Regions from separate parts of the Homo sapiens genome. Here region 1 is linked to region 2. Evidence: fine-mapped expression QTL. A gene starts in region 2. The other region holds a variant in brackets. All regions are shown on one strand. Distances are between the middles of the regions.

The links. PIP is the estimated chance that this variant, and not a neighbour inherited with it, causes the effect. A credible set is the group of variants that fine-mapping cannot tell apart.
Region 1: its variant is the best candidate, but not a certain one, in a credible set for the expression of ZNF408 in sun-exposed skin (GTEx, PIP 0.61).

What each region holds. Positions count from the first base shown.
Region 1 is chr11:46,740,462-46,744,846 of GRCh38, forward strand. It overlaps CKAP5 (cytoskeleton associated protein 5), which reads right to left. Exons shown (of 44, transcript NM_001008938.4): 43 at 3,965-4,116; 44 at 2,587-3,804. The coding sequence ends at 3,562. Among named protein-coding and RNA genes, the nearest start is that of MIR5582, 11 kb to the right of the region's middle. The variant C/T (reference allele first, on the strand shown) is at 1,994.
Region 2 is chr11:46,699,165-46,703,549 of GRCh38, forward strand. ZNF408 (zinc finger protein 408) reads left to right here and starts at 1,867. Exons shown (of 5, transcript NM_024741.3): 1 at 1,867-1,935; 2 at 2,235-2,512; 3 at 3,540-3,601; 4 at 3,820-4,079. The coding sequence starts at 1,884. It overlaps ARHGAP1 (Rho GTPase activating protein 1), which reads right to left and starts at 1,455. Exons shown (of 13, transcript NM_004308.5): 1 at 1,387-1,455. RefSeq lists a silencer at 1,211-1,330 and an enhancer at 1,661-1,950.

The DNA of each region.
Region 1 (4,385 bases), 41 kb after region 2:
CAGGAGAATGGCATGAACCTGGGAGGTGGAGCTTGCAGTGAGACAAGATTGCACCACTGCACTCCAGCCTGGGCGACAGAGCGACTCTGTCTCAAAAAGAAGAAGAACCAACCATGCATACCAAAATCCACAGATGCTCAAATCTCTTATATAAAATGGCACAGTTTACATATAACCTATGCACATCCTCCCATATACTTCATTTTTAAAATTTATTTTTATCTTTTTGAGTTGGAATTTTGCTCATTGCCCAGGCTGGAGTGCAATGGTGCGATCTCGGCTCACTGCAATCTCCGCCTCTTAGGTTCAAGTGATTCTCCTGCCTCAGCCTCCCGAGTAGCTGGGATTACAGGTGCCCGCCACCACGCCTGGCTAGTTTTTGTATTTTTAGTAGAGATGGGGTTTCACCGTGTTGGTCAGGCTGGTCTCAAACTCCTGACCTCAGGTTATCCACCCATCGGGGCCTCCCAAAGTGTTGGGATTACAGACATGAGCCACCCTGCCCGGCCTTCCCATATACTTCAAATCATCTCTAGATGACTTACACCCAATAGAACGTAAATACTATGTAAATAGTTATACTGTATTATTTTAAAATTTGTATTATTTTTATTGTTTTCTTTCCCCACAAATATTTTCAATCTGCAGTTGGTTGAATCTGCAGATGCAAAACCCACAGATCTGGAAGGCCACCTGTATATTAAAAGGTGTATATAACGACATTACTTACCTCATACGGTTATGAGGATTAAATGAAAGAACTTACATGGTGCCTTAGCACAATGCCTAGTGCCTAGTAAGCTGTGAATCACTACCACTCGTATTCTCACTATTGCCTGGGAACTGGACCGGGCATTGGGCCTGTTGAAAGTTCCTCTGCCGCTTACCTCGTCCCTCTCTTGGGCCCTGGAAATAGCCCATCAGTGGGGTAGTTGCTTCCTGGAATGTTTCCTCACACAGCAGTTCCCAGCTGGAACAATTTATTTTTCCAAGAAATGGGACCTCTAAGTTATAAGAGTCATGGGCTGGGCATGGTGGCTCACGCCTGTAATCCCATCACTTTGGGAGGCTGAGGCTGGTGGATCACCTGAGGTCAGGAGTTGGAGACCAGCCTGGCCAACATGGTAAAATCCCGTCTCTACTAAAAATACAAAAACTAGCCGGGTGTGGTGGTGGGCACCTGTAATCCCAGCTTCTCAGCTGCTTGGGAGGCTGAGGCAGGAGAATTGGCTGAACTCAGGAGGCAGAGGTTGTAGTGAGGAGAGAGGCATGCCACTGCATGCCATCCAGCCTGAGCGACACAGCAAGAGTCCCTTGCAAAAAAAAGAATCATAGAACTTCAAAGATACCCTTTCAGAGCACATTCTTCACGGTTACTGTTGGCAGAGGTCACAGGTGTGGGATGGAGCATGGCTCCGTCTTGAGAAGTCTCATCCATGAGCTCAGGGAAAGAATGAAGATCAACGTCTGCCTCAGGCACAGGATAGTGGAGTGGAGCAGGGAAACCCTGTGGCTACAGTACCTGGCCTAGGATCTTCTAACGTGGTTTTCCACGGGAAGGGACCTGAGATAGGGATCTTTAGCACCCTCCTCATAACGTTTTTTTTTTTTTTTCTCATTTTTCAACACATCAGAAAACAAACAGGACAGAGTTCCTTGGCCTCATTCTTTGGTTCTGGTTGACTGAAAGGCAGTGAGCTTGCAGGATTTGGCAGCCCAGGGCATCAACTCGATCAAGGGGGAAGGGATTCAGAATTACTTGTGACATGCAGGACCTGCTTTTTAAACAAGAACACACATTCTCATAAGTCTGTTTTCTTCCGACATAGCGGTCAGTGTTGTAAGCTCTAGGGACTTGGGTTTTTCCAGTCAGCTGTGCTAATTCCAGACAGGAGTACAGCCACTCTTTTTTTTCCTCTTCTTTTGTTTCCCTCCTCTTTTTTGAGACAAGGTCTTGCTCTGTTGCCCAGGCTGGAGTGTAGTGGAGTGATCA[C/T]GGCTCACTGCAGCCTTGACCTCCTGGGCTCAGGTGATCCTCCCACCTCAGCCTCCCAAGTAGCTGGGACTACAGGCTTGAGCCACTATACCCAGCTAATTTTTGTATTTTTTTGGTAGAGCCATGTTGCCCATGTTGGTCTTGAACTCCTGGGCTCAAGTGATTCACCCACCTTAGCCTCCCAAAATGCTACGGTTGTATGAGTGAGCCACCAGGCCCAGCCTTTGTAGCCATTCTTTCTAAATATGTCTTTCCACTATAGCAGCAAACGCCTCCATCATCCCTTCAGTGAACAAATACCCACTCCCATGTTCCCACTATAAAGGAGAGACAAGTTTAATTTCAGGAGGCTCCGGGGCCACCTGAAAACGATGACTGGAACCTTTACAGGATTAATCTTCCATCAATCTTTCATTTCTTGGACATCAATTGAATTGAAGGTGGGCTACAATAGGAAAGTTCCTTTGAACTTTATAACTGCCCAAAATCTCCTCCTGAATCCAGAACCTTTTCATCCTGAAGAGTTTTTCTGACTGTGGAGGGAGGTCCTGTGGAATTTATTCCAGAGGTGAATACTCAGCTCACTTTCTCATCCTTACTCTGACTGAATGTGAAGCAACTGTTAGCCTGGACCAAAAGAGACTCATACAACCAAGCAGCAAACCACTAAGATTTCCCAAACTCCATTAGTCAAATGAACACAAATCTAGTTGTAGTGTGAGAACCACTGAAGCCCAGCCAATCTCTGGGCGCAATCTTGTGTGCCTTTGGTCAGCAAAGTGGTAGGATGCCCAAGAGCTTCTTGAAACGACTGGTGATAATTGGAGGGAAATCATGACCAAAATCTCAAAACAAGGAAGGATGAGATTTTTCTGCTCCCTAGGAGCTGTTTGTGGAGAGCAGGGAAGGAGAGTTCCTTCCATTCCAAAGGAATAAAAGACAGCTCCAAGTCTGTGAGCCAAGAAAAAGGGAAGCTCTGTAAGCAGTAATTAACCTTTCTCTAACTGGCTGAATACCCAGCTGGTACCAAAAGTTAAAAAATTGCTGCCCAACACTCCATGATATGGAGCATCTTGGGAGTCAGGTATAGTTAATGCAAACTTTATTTATAAAAGACTCTTAAATTAGTTGTATCATGCCATGCATTCATACAGAATACAGTGACCCTTCAGGGCGACAGAGAAGAGCTCACAAACTGAAAGGAAAACTATTAAAGAGTTTCTAATATTAACTATTAAAAAGCTAGGAAAGATTAGGACAATTTTACAAATGAGCAATTAAAAAGAAAAGAAAAGGATCTGGGAACTAGACTGAGCAGAGAGGGGGCAGCTGTTTACAAGTCTGTACACTAAACTCATCCACGGACAGTCTTCTAGAGCAGCAGGACGCTGACAGAGAGAAGCAGAGTATGTACAAATACTTGTGCCACAATGACTCCTCCCCCTAGCTCCACGGCATGATACATACAACCAGTTTGTATACACTAGGCCTGCTGAGGCCATTTTAAACTATGAGGACTTCTAGTTTAGTAAACTAAAGCTGCAGGGTGCCGGGGGAGTGGGGCAGCTTCATTTGCGACTGCTCTTTATTCTCTCCAGTCTTTTTTTCAAGTCGTCTATGTTAGCTGTGGAGGAGGAGGAGGTCACAGTTCCTGAAGAGTGAGTCTGGTTAGAATCCAGGTCTGAATGCTGGTGCTGCTCCCGTGACTCCCGGAGCTGAGAGAGTTTGCTGTGGAGCATGTCTGTGGAAGAGGCGACAGTAGGAACTGCTGGTTTGGAGAGCAAAGAGGTCAAAGGAGGTCGGTCATCTTGCTATTGAGAGAAGGAGAGAGATTGTCTAAGGTCAGGTCAAGCAGGTCAAGATGCAGCTCCAGAACTACAGCAAGACTAAGCCACTTCTCTGTGGGCCAGCCTGCCTCGGACCTGCTTGTGACTACCCTCCCTGAACTGCACAGAAGAAAAGGAGCAGTACCTTTGTGTTGTCCAGACCACATCGCTGTCGGAGGATCTTTAGCCTTTCCAAGTAGACAGATGGCCCCACTTCTTCCCCATTTGTGTTACCTATGGAGGACACTGTGCTTGTGGGCGTGGGCACACATGTGACTTCCATCTGAGGGGAGATGCCTAGAGGGGAAAAAGTAGAAAGAATATTCAGATATCCACATATCCCCCTTCTAAAGTGCCTTGGTTAATCTCCCACCAAAAAGAACAATTAAGAATTTCCTATACTTGAAAACGACAAATTCCACAAGAATCTACCTGGAGTTGGTGATAAGGGTGCTCTGAAATATACAATATAAGCTTCTTGAGAATGCAAAAAACTGATATAGAAAGGCAGAATGTAAATTGGGTCATCCATCTGCATCCTGGGTTATGCAGGGGATTGTACTCCA
Region 2 (4,385 bases):
TTTTAAGAGGTTCATACACCTTCTGAGAATCACTGTTTAAGAACTTCTGGTCTATTCAGAATGACACCTGATATATAGTAGATGCTATCATTTGTTGAATGAATGAACCAATTAATTCATCTCCTAAGTAAAGAAGGGAACCCACACTTGTTGAGGGCCTATATAGGACCATGAACTGGGGACACAAACTCAACCTCACGATAGCACTGATGAGGCATGTTCTACTAAGCTCATTTTACAGTGAGGAAAGAGAGGACCAGCCGGGCACGGTGGTTCACGGCTGTAATCCCAGCACTTTGGGAGGCCGAGGCGGGCGGATCACAAGGTCAGGATTTGGAGACCAACCTGGCCAAGATGGTGAAACCCCATCTCTACTAAAAATACAAAAATTAGCCGGGTGTGGTGGCGCGCGCCTGTACTCCCAGCTACCTGGGAGGCTGAGGCAGAAGAATCGCTTGAACCCGGGAGGCGGAGGTTGCAGTGAGCCGAGATCACGCCACTGCACTCCAGCCTGGGCGACAGAGTGAGACTCCGTCTAAAAAAAAAAAAAGAAAAGAAATCATATTCTCAACGTTGGAATCGGCCTCCCAGTTGCAAATCCCACCACAATACAACAGCAATTACAACTCTCAACTACAATTATGTTTGCATAGAGCTTCACGGTTTACAAAGCCCAGGTTACGTTTTGCAATTATCCTGTTTCACAGATTAAGAAGTTGAACTGAGGCCGGGCGCAGTGGCTCACGTCTATAATCCCAGCACTTTGGGAGGCGGGGGCGGGAGGATCACGAGGTCAGGAGTTCGAGACCAGCCTGGCCAACATGGTGAAACCCTGTCTCTACTAAAAATACAAAAATTAGCCGGGCGTGGTGGCGGACGCCTGTAATCCCAGCTACTCAGGAGGCTGAGGCAGGAGAATCGCTTGAATCCGGGAGGCGGAGGTTGCAGTGAACCGAGACTCCAGCCTGGGCAATAAGAGTGAAACTCCGTCTTAAAAAAATAAATAAGTTGAACTGAAAGCGTGGCCTAATAAGTGGCAAGGAGGAACACTTCCCCCAAATTTCTTCTTCTTAGTGCTTTGCCAGATCAGATCTGGGAGATTTCCCCCTCCCGCCGGCTTGCTGGATGACAGCGATCCGGCCTGGACTCTGCCCTGGGGAAGGCAGGAAGAAGGTAGTGAAAATGATTAAGTCCTCTTATTGCAGGCGCCAAAATGGGGCAGAAACCCTGCAGGAAGGCCAGGCCTCTGAGCCCAGTTCCACCCCCGTTCCCCTCCTCGGATCTGCTCCGGTCCTCCCCATCCGGACCCCATCCCTTCGGACGACCTGGCCAGCTCCTTTCCTTTCCCCATCCCCACCCGGGGAGACCCCGCGCCCAGCAGCTCACCGCGCTCGGGCACTGCTCCCTCTGCCACGCCTGTCAAGGCTCGGCAAACATCCGGCTCCGCGGTGGAACGGGAACCGCCCCCTCCCGCTCTCTTCTATCCCCAACCATTTCCGCCACACCTCCAACCCACTTCCGGCCCCAAACATGGCCTTTCCAGGAGCCCCGCCCACTTCCTGCACATGCCCGCCTAAGTTCCTGCCTCGGGGAGGTAACAGCATAACTGTCCGACTCGTCGCTCCCAAAGAGATGGCTGGAACAATTAGTTCCGCTTTCCCAGCTAGTCGAATCACTGGTGCACCTCCGGAATCCGAGGTTCGCATTGCTCTCGGACAGAGTTCTGCCTCCCCAGTACTCCCAAACTCCCAGTCCTGTGCACCAATGAGGTCCAGCTCTGAGGCTTCTTTCCTGAGAAAAAAATTTGGAAGTCCGTGACTGTTTCCTGGAGGAGCTGAGAAGAGGAAGCTCACTTCCGGCGTAGGGAGGCTTTCTGACCCGGAATGGAGGAGGCGGAGGAGCTGCTCTTGGAGGGGAAGAAGGCGCTGCAACTCGGTGAGTGACCTGCGATGTCCGCGACCCTCAACCTTGGCCCAGGTGGATCTGACGCTCTGTGGTCAGCTTTCTCCTCAGTCTTCTCTCCTCCGGATCCCAGGATCCTCCAGTGCCCTCAGAGTCGCTGGGGGCTTCTGAAGAGCCCTTGAGCCTCCTCAAAACTTTCAGGGCCCTCCTTAGAGCCCTCACCTGTCCCTCGGGCTCCGCAGGCCCACCTGGACCTGCGGTTTCCTCCCACACTTTTCCCCACCTCCCACCTTCTTGGGTGGCTCCCTCACTGTCTTCCCTTCTCTCTGCAGCCCGCGAGCCGCGCCTGGGCCTGGACTTAGGATGGAACCCTTCCGGAGAAGGCTGTACGCAGGGCCTCAAAGACGTCCCACCCGAGCCGACCCGAGACATCCTCGCTTTAAAGAGCCTTCCCCGGGGCTTGGCCCTTGGCCCCTCACTCGCCAAGGAACAGCGCTTGGGGGTCTGGTGTGTCGGGGACCCCCTGCAGCCCGGCCTGCTGTGGGGGCCGCTGGAAGAGGAGTCTGCCTCCAAGGAGAAGGGCGAGGGAGTAAAGCCACGGCAGGAGGAGGTATTGAAGGATAGAGCGACTTCCCTCCGCCCTTGAAAATGTAGGGGAGGTTTGGACATTGCTAGACAGCTTTTCAATTTGAAGAAAGAGAGTATTTCAAGAGATAGGAGATAGTCTTGTCCCTTCTCTTCAGGACTGTCTCCTCTCAGCAGCAGTAGTTAAAGAATCGAGGTTTGAAAAGTTGTTGAAAGCTGGAATCATACAGTGTCAGCAGTGAGTGAGGAAGGTCAAGAGCTAAGGTTTTTGGAATTAAGAAAGCATGGGATCAAATTCCAGCTTTGTCACCTAGCTGGTTAAATTACGTGCCGCATTTAATTCATCTGTGAAACAAAGCAGTGGCTCTCTTGGGATTATATGGAGGAGCTGATGAAATAGTGAAGATAAAAGGTTTCACTGCACAATAAGTACCATTTTATTTTATTTATTTTTCTTTTTTCTTAGACAGTCTTGCTTTGTCGCCCAGGCTGGAGTGCAGTGGCACGATCTCGCCTTATTGCAACCTCCACTTCCCAGGTTCAAGTGATTCTCATGCCTCAGCCTCCCGAGTAGCTGGGATTACAGATGTGCACCACCACACCCAGCTAATTTTTGTATTTTTAGTAGAGACAGGGTTTCACCATGTTGGTGAGGCTGGTCTCAAACTCCTGGCCTCAAGTAATCCGCCTGCCTGGGCCTCCCAAAGTGCTGAGATTACAGGTGTGAGCCCCCGCGCCTGGCCCAATAAATACCATTTTAAAAAGCTGGTGTTCCTTATTACTTTTTCTGTTTAGTACTCACTGGAAGACAGTAATGTGTTCAATTTAGTAATTCTCCATACCCTTGGGAGGGAGGTGAGGAGACAGACTTTTTGGTCCTTACTGAATGAAGAATCAGACAGCACTGTCCTGTTAGAGGAGAACCAGAGGCTTCTAACCTTCCAGGAGTTTCATCTTAAATTTGTCCCAGGAAAGTTTCATCTAGTTTCTTTTTTTATTCCTACCCGACCCCTCGAACACATTTGAGAAGGACTTTTGTTGGTTTATTTCAGAACCTGTCATTAGGCCCATGGGGAGACGTGTGTGCCTGTGAGCAGAGTTCTGGCTGGACTAGGTAAGTCAGAGGAGAGTGTGTCGTTCCTTTGAGGTTTTCTGTTGTGGTTTGGGATGGAACCCGGTGCTGACTGTCATTTCCTATTCAGTGCTCTTTTGCAGTGAATGTTCCAAAGGCACGGCGTCCTTTAGGACCCAGACTGCTTGGGGACTGGGGCTTTCGGGGAAGACCACTTGAATAGTGAGCATCTCCTAGCTGGCTGTTACTTTGCTTTGCAGCTTGGTACAACGGGGCAGGCTGGAGAGTGAGGGAAATGTGGCCCCAGTGCGGATCAGCGAGAGGCTTCATCTGCAAGTGTACCAGCTGGTGCTGCCAGGCTCTGAACTGCTGCTGTGGCCCCAGCCTTCCTCTGAGGGCCCAAGTCTCACCCAGCCTGGGCTGGACAAAGAGGCAGCTGTAGCAGTGGTGACAGAAGTGGAGTCTGCTGTACAGCAGGAAGTGGCCTCCCCTGGGGAGGATGCAGCAGAACCTTGCATAGGTATGTGTCAAATAAATGCTGGTTTCCCAGCAATTTCCCCACCAAAACAACCTGTTGATAAGACAAAGCAGAGTTTATGGCTCATTGCGGTAAGGAAGGACACTATAGAGTCTTAGTAGCTTTTCAAAATCTGTTTTAAGGTGGATCTTTCAACATGGGATAGGAGGGTGGGGCTTGATTAGTATTGGGTAAGGATTATGACTGAATAGCTTAGGGTTGGTACATACAGCAAGGCTAGAATTTTCAGGCAAGGGACAGTCTCAGACTATGAATTGTCATTCATTGCTTTCTGTTGAAGAGCGACGG